2 linked regions of the Homo sapiens genome follow. The protein of the gene in region 1 purifies or fractionates together with the protein of each later gene. This does not show direct contact. Each region holds a gene or a part of one and is shown in the gene's direction. Other genes may lie near its edges. The genes, in order: KCNMB1 and KCNMA1.

Region 1 (3,916 bases):
AAACAGACACTGTAGTCTCCTGTTAATAAGATTCAATTAGGAAAGGGGTGGAGAAGGGCACTCACCGCCTGAGAGTGTGTCAGGGAGGCCTGAGTGGCTGCCTTCATTTCGCGCCTGCTGGAGGCAGGAGGGAGGAAGGTGGTGAGCTCGCTCAGCAGGGAAGGCCAGGCTGCACCCACCTCCCTGGGGGCTGGGGAAACTCAGGGTGACCTCCAGAGCCTCAGGTGGCAGCTTACTGTATGATCGAGGTGATTTTTAATGTCTCAGAGCAGCCCCAGGGTCATCAGAGACAGACCAAGCTGTGCCATCTGGAAGGGCCAGCTTCGAATCTAGTTCTGGCCCCTAGGGTTGCACCAGTGACTTCAAGCCTCCAAGTCTCAGTTTCAGGTTCTTTGATTCTTGGGTCAAGTGAAGGGTGGAGATAAGCTGCCTTCTACCACCACGCCTGATACTTAGGAAAGCCCCAATATCTGGGATTGTTTTTGTTGTTTTGTTGAAAATATATATATATATATATATATTTGTTTTTTTTTTTTGAGACGGGGTCTCGCTCTGTTCAGGCTAGAGTGCAGTGGCACAATCTTGACTCACTGCAACCTCCGCCTCCCAGGTTCAAGCGATTCTCCTGCCTCAGCCTCCCAAGTAGCTGGGACCACAGGCATGCACCACTATGCCCGACTAATTTTTGTATTTTTAGTAGAGATGGGGTTTCGCCATGTTGCCCAGGATGGTCTCAAACTCCTGGGCTTGAGCAATCCATCTACCTTGGCATCCCAAAGTGCTGGGATTATGGGCGTGGGCCACTGTGCCTGCCCTTTGTTGCTGATTTTTAATCCTTACTTCCACTTTACAGATGAAGAAGCAGAGATCTAAAAGCATGTTTTTTGCCTGCAAATGCTGACATTCACTTGTCTTATTGCTAGGAAGAAATCTCTGTACTTTCGCGGTCTCTGGGAGGGCCCCTGGTGAGCAGACTGTCCCTGGACCTGGTTGGAAGCAGTTGTGGAGCTCTCACTACTCCCAGCTTCAGCTCAGTTGGTCCTTAAAAAGTCAGTTCTCTCCCCTTGCCATAAATCCCCACCGTCTCTAACTCCCATCACTACCCTAAAGCAAAGTAGGTTTTAAAAATGCCAGTAACACAAGTGAGAAAACTGAGGTCATTTAACGATAAGTTTGGGAGTAAAACCAAAAACAAAAAAGGAAACTGAGGCCCAGAGAGGTGCCATAACTTGCTCAGGGTCACACAGCACGTAAGTGCCAAAGGCAGGGAGCTGTAGCTGCTCCAGCGTGGATATGCCAGGGACTAGTGACAAGCCCAACCCCTCCAGCCCAACTCCACCCTTCCTCATGCCAACAAAAGGAGAATCATTTCCTATTTCTGGCATCTTTGCCAGCCCACAGAGACAGAGAGAAGAAGAAATATTTCCAAATATACCAGGCTGATCTTTCGTAGTTTCTCAGTCTTGCTGTCTGTTGTTGTTTGAAATCTGTTTCCCACGAGACTCTGGGAAGATGGAGGTGCAGGGCTTGGGTAACAGCTGCCTTCCTCAGGGCTGGGTACCTGCTCTCCGAGTCTGTGTCTCCAGGCTGTGTGCTCAGACTTGACCATGTTTGGGCATGGAGGCTTGCCCCAGATGGGGACCAAAAGCTGCTTCCCTGGAGACGGGCGGGGAGGCCAAACTTCCTGCTGAAGCTCTGTGGCCTCTTTTGGGGTGGGGGCGGGGGTCCAGGCAGAAAGAAACTGTCTGCTGCTCAAGACCCACAGGACGCCGGGAAGACTGTGAGTACCGGGCCTGAAAGCACTTGGGAAGTGATTTCTCTGAAGACCGGGCTGGAGGGAGACAGGGGAAAGCAGCCTGCCACGGGGCAGGGAGGGAGGCAGGCAGGAGGACTCCCTTCCTCTCGGGGCTGTCCTTCTGGATGGAGGGCCCGTGGTCTGGTGGCCAGTGGGGAGGGTGGCACAGTGGCCAGGTTACTCTGGTAGTAAGCGCCCTGGCCCTCTAGGTCCCAGTTCTCAGAGTGGCCAGAAGGCTGCAGCCTGGAGATTAACACCAATGCTGGCACTTGTCACCGGTAGAGAGGTGGGACAAAAATAGATTCATCAAGAGGGGTCCAGACTTCTGCTCCAAACTTTCAGGGTTTCCTTCGTTAGTAGTAATAGCTAATATTTACTGGGGGCTGATTTGGGGCTAGGTGCTATGATACATGTCTGATACTCAATATGGCATTTGATCTTTAGCTGAACTCTCTGAGGCAGGTACCATGGTTCTCGTTTCACAGTCATGTGGTTGCTAAGTGTAAGTGGCAGAGCCAGGATTTGATTCCATGTCTGAGGACCTCAGAATCGCCCTGTCCACACCCCACCAAACTGTTCAACAATGTACTCTATTCCTTGTCCTTCTAAGGAAAAGGATGTCGACCCAGCTATCAGGTCACCCAGGACACTCCAAAGTCCTGCCTTCCTTTGTCCTTCTCCATCTTCTCTGAATCTATCCCAGATCTCAAGTGACCTTTCTAAATGGGAAGATATATCCTGGAACTTCAGAGATATTTAGAAATGCTCAAAACTGGGAAGTTCTTCTTACAGTCTAACTGAAATCCCTCCTATGATAGCTGAAACCCACTTCTTCCTTTTCTTTCTGTCCCTTGGGGGATATTGACAGTTCCCATCCTTCCTCCCGCCAAAGGTTCTCCCTTTGGATGCTGAATACTAACTTCTTGCTGAAGTCATATCTACACTGAACCCCACGCATGGTCTTAGGAGGATTTATCATGACTCTATAAACTCACTCAGTGCAGGCAACAATCTCATCAGACCATTAGAGACGGGTCAGACCTGAATAAGCCAAGTTTCCAGACTTCTCTGTGACAGGGAAGCCTCTCCTTTCCTTTCCTTCTGAGCTCCTAAAACTGGTAAAACCAGGTTCCTGCCTTCACCAGCCTCAGGAGTGCCCAGGGGCCTGAGAGGGCACTAGAAGCCAAATAGCAGAGGAGGCCATGGCCCTGGGCGCTGGGGGGGGCTGATTAGCCAGGAAGGAGCCACAGGAAGCCCCCACAGGTGCGATCCAGTTCCCCCAGGAGAGAAATGGCTTTGTTGTGGGCACTCAGCCCTAGGCTTCCAAGATGGGATTTCCCATTGGCTTCAAATGATTTATGTCTCACAGTATCTGGGGTGGGGCCAAGTGCCAGTGACCCTTGCAGGTCCTGGGGAAGCAGGCTGTTGGGGCTTTTAGCTTACCTCCAGGTGATTCTGTTGCTTTACCTGTGAATACATGGAGAGTCTTGTTCAACTGACGCCAGGTAGAAAAAGGCATGGGCTCTCCCATTCCCACAAGATCACAGAACAGGAGGAAAAGGATTGAATAAAAAGAGTTGAATAAAACATCTCTCTTTGTCGGGGGCAATTTCTGCTTGCTTGTGCTTTTATAATGTCTCCATTAGAATGCAGGAGAAACTCACCTCCTGGTGCCAAATAAAGGAGAAAAAGTTGTCATTGGATGTCACCTCTGCCGATCGATAGGGGAGGTGGACCAGCTCACTGGGAAGGTGTGATGGGTATCCGTGGTGCCTGACCCTGGTCTCTTCCCTTTAGCGGAGATGCCCGGGTATGAGGGCAGCCTGGCTAAGGGGAGGGAGTCAAGAATCTCTGAATATTTGAAACAGTCTAGTAGTTAAGAGACGCCTGAGCAGAAAATAGAGCACTTTGCAGAAAATCTCTTTGGACTAAGGCCTGTCACCCGGACACTGGCTAATTAAACAAACAAAAACCATAATATGTTTATTACTTTAGGGACCTGGCAAGGAGAATAAAGTCCCCCTGATATCTGGCTAAAATTTCCCCTAAATTCCCCTAAAATTTCCCCTAAAATGGAGGATTACATTGATAGCTTCCTGGTATTTTTGGTAGAAATGGACT
Region 2 (3,816 bases), on another chromosome or scaffold:
TTTGGAGGTGATGGGAAGCATTTTTCTATAATTACTAATAGTAGATGTAAAGACATTTTGGTAAGAATTCAAGTTTTGTATTAATAGAATAATTCCATCACCTAATTACAAAAGTCTGAATACACAAACATCTCTCCCAAACTCTAGCTACTAGGATAACATCTGTTGGTACCTAATATAGAGATATTTTACATTGCTAGTGTTTAAGATAAGTTTTTTTGTTTTTTTGTTTTTTGTTTGTTTGTTTTTTGAGATGGAGTGTTGCTCTGTTGCCCAGGCTGGAGTGCAGTGGCACAATCTTGGCTCACTGCAACCTCTGCCTCCTGGGTTCCAGTGATTCTCTTGCCTTAGCCTCCTGAGTAGCTGGGATTATAGGCACACACCACCACACCCAGCCAATTTTTGTGTTTTTAGTAGAGAGAAGGCTTGTTGGCCAGGCTGGTCTCGAACTCCTGACCTCAAGTGATCCACCCACCTCGGCCTCCCAAAGTGCTGGGCTTACAGGTGTGAGCCACCACACCCCGCCCTAAGATAAGTGGTTCTTCTGCCATATCTCAGAATCCCATATTTTTACTTCACATATTTTAAATTGACTCGCTTTTTAACTTTTATATATTTATTTTTGAGACAATTATATATTATCACCTTAAGCAGAGAAATAACAGTTTAGATGTGCCAATTATATTTTTCTCATATGCATTAAAATAAATTCATAGCAGGCAAAAATTAAAAGTACATCCTAGAATTACCAAGATCAGTGAGTTTGCATAATATACCCTAGGCAACAGTGCTGCAGAGACAAGCGTTTCTCATCCCTGCTTGCATAGTAGAATCACCTGGGGAGCTTTTAAAAAATATTCTGATTACTCTAACTTAACTGGTCTGGAAGGAAGAAAACATCATATATATATTTTAAATTATGTAAACATTTTATATATAATAACCAGGGATTATAGTGTATAGCCAGAATTGAGAACAATTGCTATAGACCAGTGGGTTCTCAAAATTTAGCCATCATGAGACTCACCTGCAGAGCTTGTTCAACCACAGATTGCTGGACCCCATCCTCAGCACTTCCAATTCAGTAGGTCTGGGTGGGATTGCTTAAGAACTTGCATTTCCTAGTTCCTAGGTGATGCTGACCTGTGTGGCCTAAGGACCACACTTGGTGACCACTGCTCTAAGTGAAACAGCGTGATTTTCTTAGTCACATCTGCTGTTGACCAAAGAAAGCTCCAACTAATTGTGAAGAACAACAAAGTAGTGCTGATAAGTAGGCAGGTTTCTTAGATTCTTCCATGTGGTGAATTCCAAATTCCAAATTCTCTCACCAAAGTAGATTTTAAAAGGTAAAGAGCGAGAATAGTCTAAGGAGACACTCTGTCATGGTAAACAAAGATCTTGTGATGTATATCTGGGATTGTCCGAAAATTATGAAATGAAAGTTGCATCACACTTCATGAAACCTCTTGCGGTTGGGCTACTTGAAAGTGACTTTGACCTTGTATAGAAAGGTACATGTAGACCACGAGAAGCGAAGTTTGGTTCTTCCATTACTGGCTCTAATTCCACATCTCTGCCTGGGCTCCTGGCTGGCCTCCTTTATTGAGTTAAACAGAGGAAGTTTCCATTTAACAAGAAAAAGAATGTTTAAGGCCTCAGACCAGCTAGGAGTGCATCTTCCAGATCCTCTGAAAGTCCTGAGTAACCAGGCCATTGCTTTTGGTTCAGAGAGAGTTGAATTCTTTACTCAGTTACTCTCAGGAGGTGACATCTCTGCTTTCCCTGTCCAGGTATGTCATCACCAACCCGCCCTATGAGTTTGAGCTCGTGCCGACGGACCTGATCTTCTGCTTAATGCAGTTTGACCACAATGCCGGCCAGTCCCGGGCCAGCCTGTCCCATTCCTCCCACTCGTCGCAGTCCTCCAGCAAGAAGAGCTCCTCTGTTCACTCCATCCCATCCACAGCAAACCGACAGAACCGGCCCAAGTCCAGGGAGTCCCGGGACAAACAGAAGTACGTGCAGGAAGAGCGGCTTTGATATGTGTATCCACCGCCACTGTGTGAAACTGTATCTGCCACTCATTTCCCCAGTTGGTGTTTCCAACAAAGTAACTTTCCCTGTTTTCCCCTGTAGTCCCCCCCTTTTTTTTTACACATATTTGCATATGTATGATAGTGTGCATGTGGTTGTCATTTTTATTTCACCACCATAAAACCCTTGAGCACAACAGCAAATAAGCAGACGGACCAAAAGTTATTTATGATTCTGGGGGAAAAATAACCCAAAGGCATGCTCCAGACATAAATAGCTCACTGCAGGAACGAGTTCACAGATTAGAAGGGAGCACTTGTGATCAACGTCAGTTAGGCAGAGCAAGTTTATTTAATGTAAAAGAAAAGTTGATTCTGATTTATCAGGATTATCAGGGTGCTTTGGGTTTTGATTTTGTTGTTGTTGTTGTTTTCCTTTCTTTCTTTTTTTATACACACAATAAGTTAGCACATGTTTATTTGAAACAAGCAACCAAACAGCAATGAAAACATATTGATTGTTTCCAGTCTCTGGGCCGAAGTATTGCGAAGCATTTGAAAAGCTTTCACGATTTGTGTAGATGATTATGAAGGACCTGCTTGTTGCAAGAGAACATCAGTGATTTTTTTAGTTACTCACCAAGGCCTTTTGTCCCAGAGCCAGTTCCCTCTGGGAGTTCTTATGAACATTTCTCACCTTAATATGGAGGAGAGAATAGTATTCCAATCATGGATGTATCAAATTCTAGTCATTTAGTTTAAGTGAAAAGAGGTTTGATTGCATATTAAATTGTTATTCTGTCTCCTTATGTTGCCATATGAATAGCTATTTTTTTTCTTTCACTTTTGACATTTGGGATGAAAAGCCATATGTATCATAAATATCAGATGTAAGTCATTAAAAACTGCCTTCCTGGGACTTTTACATCTTTTAAAAGGTGAATTACTTACCTTATGTACAGAATAAATAATGCTCAGGAAAGAGCAAGTATTTTTCCATGCATTCTCAGGGGATCTTTTTACTCCCCTTTGTTTGATTAGTTAGGGCCCCAATGCCAGGTAGGAGGAAGGGCTGGGGCAATGGTAGAGTGAGAGGAAGACAAACCCAGCTGCAGATCATGCTTTTCTAGGAGCCGACATGCTAAATAAATTAGAATGTAGGAGGATCAGCCACAGTTGACTCAACAAAGACAAAAGCCAGCCACCACCTTCAACTGTTGGCACAGCTGTGCGGTGCTGGCTGTCCCAATGCAGAAAGCTGGTGGGAAGGAATTCCTCATCATCACTTTCTTTAATGTAGCCAATTTAGGCAGGGTAATGACGGCAATAGAGAGCTGCTCCTTGTCATTATGAGACGTGGGATAAGAAGAGTGCAACAGTGAGCCAAACACATTTTGGTATAGTTATTTTTTTCTTCTTTTGTTTTCTTTCTTTTTTAACACTTAGTAAGCATGAGAGGAGAGGTAGAAAAATACCCTTTTTTCAACATATAGTTGTCAGATGCTTTGTGCATGCAAATCATGCTTTAGGCAGTGCGGTATTTCTTAAAAACTGGCCAATTCACCATAACCAATTTCCCTTATGGATGGACTAGGCTGGTATATACATATTTGAAAAGTTTTACTTCAAAGAATTCCATCGAATAGAATAGGGGTAAAAGGGAGGAGGAAAACATGTCACAGCTGTACCATCTCTAAAAAGGTGTTTTTATGGTGAATGTTTTGGATTTAGATTTTGGATCCCCCGTCCCCTCAAGCATGATAGTTTTGGATATTTGCTT

What was found.
Region 2: the proteins of KCNMB1 (region 1) and KCNMA1 purify together in Homo sapiens (affinity purification with western blotting, with the first as the bait; one study listed by BioGRID). This does not show direct contact.

Annotation. Positions count from the first base shown.
Region 1 is NC_000005.10:170,387,123-170,391,038, reverse strand, and holds the start of KCNMB1 (calcium-activated potassium channel subunit beta-1), read left to right. Parts: upstream 1-1,671; 5' UTR 1,672-1,780; intron 1,781-3,916. UniProt on the Homo sapiens protein: Regulatory subunit of the calcium activated potassium KCNMA1 (maxiK) channel. Modulates the calcium sensitivity and gating kinetics of KCNMA1, thereby contributing to KCNMA1 channel diversity.
Region 2 is NC_000010.11:76,885,493-76,889,308, reverse strand, and holds part of KCNMA1 (Calcium-activated potassium channel subunit alpha-1), read left to right. Parts: intron 1-1,027; exon of another isoform or gene 1,028-1,265; intron 1,266-1,793; coding exon 1,794-2,043; 3' UTR 2,044-3,816. UniProt on the Homo sapiens protein: Potassium channel activated by both membrane depolarization or increase in cytosolic Ca(2+) that mediates export of K(+). It is also activated by the concentration of cytosolic Mg(2+).